2 separate regions of the Homo sapiens genome follow, and region 1 is linked to region 2. The links come from fine-mapping of genetic effects on gene expression. A gene starts in region 2. The other region holds a variant in brackets. All regions are shown on one strand. Distances are from middle to middle. Region 1 overlaps TRAF3 (TNF receptor associated factor 3). Region 2 holds the start of TRAF3 (TNF receptor associated factor 3).

Region 1 (2,804 bases), 69 kb before region 2:
TAAAACGCCATCTCTACCAAAAATACAAGAATTAGCTGGGCGTGGTGGCACACACCTGTAATCCCAGCTACTTGGGAGGCTAAGGCAGGAGAATAGTTTGAACCCAGGAGGCGGAGGCTGCAGTGAGCTGAGATCATGCACACCACTGCACTCCAGTCTGGGCGACAGAGCGAGACTCCATCTCAAATAAATAAAAATGAAATTTCAAAAGGTAAATTTCTATAATATGAATAAATTTAAGATAAAACATGATTAACTACTGTATATGCATGTGCTTTGGGGATTTTCCACATTTTTTTAATGGAACATGCACTATAAAATCTGATTATTTTAAAACTGCTTTTACTATGAGGTATTACTTACTTATAGAAAAGCATAGAAAACATATGTATACCGTTTCATGAAGTTATTACATAAATACCAGTCCAACTACCACCAAGGGATGGAGCATTGCCAGAACTCCAGAAAGGCTGGGTGCCTCTATCTGACCCCAAAACCCTTCCACCACATACGTAAGTAAGTACTAGCTTTAACAAAATGATTTTGTTTGATTTGTTGACGCAGCATCTTGCTCTGTCACCCAGGCTGGAGTGCAGTGGTGCAACCACAACTCACGGCAGCCTCGACCTCCCAAACTCAGGCAATTCTCCCATCTTAGCCTCCCAAGTAGCTGGGACCACAGGAGGATGCCACCGTGTCCGGAAAATTTTTTTTTTTTTTTTTTTTTTTTTTTTAAGAAGCTGGATCTCCCTGTGTTGCCTAGACTGGTCTGGAACTCCTGGGCTCAAGTGATCCTCCCATCTCAGCCTCCCAAAGTGCTGGGATTACAGGCATGAGCTACTGTGCTTTAACTTTTATGGTTTATCATTTCCAAACTTTTCTTTAGAGATTTATCACCTAGGTGTGCAGCCCTACCAAACATAACTTATATAAAAACCAGAAGCAGATGAAAATAACAAAATCATACTACATATATTCTTGTCTTGCTTTTTTCTTTGCCTTTTTTGTTGTTGCTGTGTCTGTAGTTTATTTTCATTGCTGTGTAATATTCTACTCAGTAAATATACCATAATTTAGTTATCCATTCTCATCCCCGAGGGTGGTCTCTGCTTTGGAGCAAATATAAACACGACTTAAGATTTTTCTGGTACAGCTATCTCAATCACTTTAGGCATGTGTTTCTCTGGTGTACATACCTAGAAGTATGATTGCTAGCTTATACTCTAAAGCCAAACTATTTCCCAAAGCAGCTGTAATGTGCACTCCCAT[C/T]AGAAGGGTATGAGAGAGTTTCTGTTGCTTAACTTTTTCAACAACAATTGCCAAACTTTTTAATTCCTGCTAACTGAACAGCGGTATAATAGTATTTTTTTTTTTTTTTTTTTTTTTTTTTTTGAGACACGGTCGACCTCTGTCACCCAGGCTAGAGTGCAGTGGCATGATCATGACTTACTACAGCCTTGAAACTCCTGGGCTCAAGAGATCCTCCCACCTCAGCCTCCCCAGTAGCTGGGATTACAAGCATGTGCCACCACACCCAGCAAATTCAAAACTTTTTTTGGCTGGGCGCAGTGGCTCACACCTGTAATCCCAGCACTTTGGGAGGCCGAGGCGGGCAGATCACGAGGTCAGGAGATCAAGACCATCCTGGCTAACACGGTGAAACCCTGTCTCTACTAAAAATACAAAAAAATTAGCCACGCATGGTGGCAGGTGCCTGTAGTCCCAGCTACTCGGGAGGCTGAGGCAGGAGAATGGCATGAACCTGCGAGGCAGAGCTTGCAGTGAGCCGAGATGGCGCCACTGCACTCCAGCCTGGGTGACAGAGGGAGACTCCGTCTTGAAAAAAAAAAAAAATTTTTTTTTTATTTTTAGGCTGGGCACGGTGCTCATGCCTGTAATCTCAGCACTTTGGAAGACTGAGGTGGGCAGATCACCTGAGGTCAGGAGTTCGAGACCAGCCTGACCAACATGGTGAAACCCCATCTCTACTAAAAATAAAAAAATTAGCCAGAGCTAGTGGCGTGCGCCTGTAATCCCAACTAACCGGGAGGCTGAGGCAGGAGAACCACTTGAACCCGGGAGGCAGAGCTTGCAGTGAGCCAAGATTGCACCACTGTACTCCAGCCTGGGCAACAAAGTGAGACTCCATCTCAAAAAAAAAAACAAAAAATTTTTAGGGCCGGGCATGGTGGCTCACGCCTGTAATTCCAGCACTTTGGGAGGCCGAGGTGGGTGGATCACGAGGTCAGGAGATTAAGTCCATCCTAGTTAACACAGTGAAACCCTGTCTCTACTAAAAATACAAAAAATTAGCCGGCGTGCTGGCAGCCACCTGTAGTCCCAGCTACTCAGGAGGCTGAGGCAGGAGAATGGTGTGAACCCAGGAGGCAGGGCTTGCAGTGAGCCAAAATTGCACCACTGCACTCCAGTCTGGGCAACAGTGCGAGACTCCGTCTCAAAAAAAACAAAACAAAAACAACATTTTTTTTTTTTTTTAGAGGTGGGAGTCTCACTATGTTGCCCAGGCTGGTCTCAAACTCCTGGCCTCAAGCAACCCTCCCGCCTCAGCCTCCCAAAGTGCTGGGATTACAGGCATGAGCCACCACACCTGGCCAACTAAGAATTCTTTATTATAGAATTTCATCATAATTTTGAATAAAGAATTCATGAAATTTTACATCTGGCAATTACTGCAATGGAGATTTAATTTTGTAGCCAAATATTTGTTCACCTTCCCCATGGTTCCTGCACCCTGATCCTTGTCAGGTATAAATTCCCAGCTCAGTCCACAGCTTCCAGGGGCG
Region 2 (2,804 bases):
AGGCACACACACCACGCACCACGCATCACATGTCATTCTGAAAACTGATTCTGAGCTTAATTCGAAAAACGTGAAATACAACTGGTCCCGTCAACAGCTCGTAATCTGAAGGTTTCTTGCATTTCCAAGCACGTCCATAACACCTCATCCGTTTCCAGTTTGTTACTGTTTCCAACCGAAGGGAGAGAATTTTCCACACAGAATTATCTCCTCGGGTCCAAATACTAGACCGAAGTCCCCACACGGGGCTGGCTGGCGGCGTGGAACCGGCCAGCCCGCCGAGAGCCGCCTGGCGCCCGCGGGGAAGACGCAGAGCCCGCGGCCAGGAGCCGCCCGGTGCCCCGGGAGTCGCCGGCCCTCGGCGGCCGCGCGAGGGGGATTCGCGCCCTCTGCCCATACCCGGACCCCCGCGCCGCCCGCCAAGCGGTCGGAGGCGCCTCTGAGGCGGAATGACTCAGGACCAACTTTCCAATAACGCCCGGGCCCCCCCGGCCGGCCCGGGCAGCGCGCTCGGCCACGCAGCCCCTGAGCCGCCCGTCCCCCCGCGTGAAACCCGCGGCCCCGCGGGGTGCCGGGTCCTCAACGCCAGCGGGGGTCACGGCCGTAGCGAGGCCTGCGCGCCCCGTTTCCTGAAAAGGTGCGGGCGCCCCGGCCCCCTCGGGCCCCGAGCCCGGCCTCCGGGACAAAGTTTGCCGAAGTTGAGGCGTCCGGAGGCGGGAGGCAGCCCGGCTGGGGCGCGGGGCCAGGCTGAAGCCGCGCCCCGCCGTCGCCGCTGGGACGGGCCGGGCCTGCGCCGCGCCGGGCCCGCGCCGGGCAGCCCCGAGGCCCCCGGGCCCCGCCGCCCAGGGCGCGGGATGGAGGCGACGGGGATGGAGGCGCCCGGCCGCGCGCCGGAGGCCCGCCCGCCCGCCGCGGCCCCTTACCTCGCGGTCCGTCGCCGCTCGGCCGGCTCAGGGGCGCCGGGCGCGTCCTCCGCCGCGGTCCGCAGCGTTCTGCTCCCCGGGCTGCCCCATGGCGGGGGGCGGGGAAGAGCCGGCGGCCGCCGCGGCTGCCGCCGGCTGGAAAGTCCCGGCTGGGCTGCAACCCCGGCTCGCGCACGCGGCGGCCGCGCCGCGCTCCCTCGCTCCCTCGCTCCCTCACGCAGCCCCGCGCAGGCACTTCCTCTCGCGCGCTGGAAATCCCCGGCGCGCCCGCCGCCCCGCCCCCGCCGCCCGCGCGCGTGGGAGCGGCAGGAGCCCGCGAGCGCCGCCGGCCCCACGCGCCCGCCGGCCCCCCGCGCGCGCCCGCGACCCGTTGCTAAGGGCCCTAGCGCCCGGCGGCCGCCCGCCCGGCCTTAGCAACGGCGGCGCCGCGGCGCGGGGCGGGGACGGCCCCGGGCGCCCCCCGCCTCCCTCCCGTCCCCGCCGCGCGCCCCGCGGGCCTCCTCGCTCTGCGCCGCCCCCGCCGCGCCCCCGCCGCCGCGCGTCCCCGCGTCCCCGCCTTTCCGGGTCAAAAAGCCACGCAGGCCGCGTGGGGGCCGAGAGGTGCTGGCGCCGCTCCTCCCCGCGGCCACCTCGCCCGCACCCCCCACGCCAGCATAGCATACGCAGCCCCCGTGCGTGCACGCCCGTGTGCCCATGGCCACACGCGACCCCTACGCACACGCACGGGTCCGATATGCGGCCCCCCGCACTGTCGCGGACGCATACACGACGGTCACATTCCCCTCAAGCGGACACGCACACACACGCTCACCAACACCGTGCGCACGCGTACCAGGCCACGCACCCTCGCGCACACGCAGGTGGGGCTGAGGGTGACTCAGGCCGTGGAGCCCCTTTTCGCATGCAGAGGGCAGGGCTCCACATTAGTTTGGTGGCACTTTCCTTTCTCCCTCCCTTGGACCCTCCCACGCCCCCGGAGTGGTGTCTTGCTCACGGGTGGACAGGGTAGCCAGTTTGCCACGTGCCCCCAGCGTCCTCGGCGGTCCTGGCTGCCCCTGCGCCCCCTGCACCCTCCACCAGGCCGCTGGGGCCTGCGCATTTCTCCCGAGGCCTCTGCCTTCTGCCCCAAAGGCATCAGTGGTGTGTCAGTGATTCACCTAGGCCCACCAAGGCAGCACCCAGCCTGGCTGGGCCTGGCGAGGTGGGAAGCGAAGGGAGGGCTTCTGGGAGGCTCTGGGCCAGCTGAGGGGTGAGGCCTTCGCTGGAGTTTGCAAGTCAGTGGTGAGGGGACAGAAAGGACTTTGCATTTTTCACTTCTCAAGAAGGCTTATAAAGAGCCCTACCCCAGAGCTGAGACCAGTGTGAGTAGCCAAGGCCAGTCTGCCTTCTTGTATTGCTCCAGTGACTCATGTGAGTGGAGGCAGGAAGTCCAGCATCTCCTCCTACAGCTTCACCCATGGAACGTTCCAGAACCCCAGATAGTCCGACCTGGCTGCTGGAAGTCTATCTGGACATCAGAGACATTGGACCATGTCTCTGGCTCCATTAGCCCAACAGATGCTTGTTCTACAGCCACACTCACCAGGCCACAGTGGCACCCCCGTCTGCGCCACAGGCACAGCTCTTTTAGAGGTGACAGGCCCGCCTTCGCCGTCCCTCACAGGGACCTATGGACTCCAGCGGTCTCCCCCACCCCCATGGTGGACTCCCCTTGGGAGCCTCAGGTGCCCTTTCTTGCCTGTCAGGAGTTGGGATGTTACTGACCTCAGGCTCAGGGTCCCAACCACTTCCCATAGCCCAGGCACTGAGGCCTCCCATGTCCCCAGCCCTGCTTAGCCCACAGTCCTGGCACCCTGTCGACTGGGGCCCACTCCCAACGCC

The links. PIP is the estimated chance that this variant, and not a neighbour inherited with it, causes the effect.
Region 1: its variant is the best candidate, but not a certain one, in a credible set for the expression of TRAF3 in whole blood (TOPMed, PIP 0.64).

What each region holds. Positions count from the first base shown.
Region 1 is chr14:102,844,569-102,847,372 of GRCh38, reverse strand. All of the region lies in intron 2 of TRAF3 (TNF receptor associated factor 3), which reads right to left. Among named protein-coding and RNA genes, the nearest start is that of TRAF3, 69 kb to the right of the region's middle. The variant C/T (reference allele first, on the strand shown) is at 1,270.
Region 2 is chr14:102,775,795-102,778,598 of GRCh38, reverse strand. It overlaps TRAF3 (TNF receptor associated factor 3), which reads right to left and starts at 1,150. Exons shown (of 12, transcript NM_145725.3): 1 at 924-1,150. RefSeq lists silencers at 308-367, 608-657, 868-1,477, 1,568-1,627 and an enhancer at 2,338-2,577.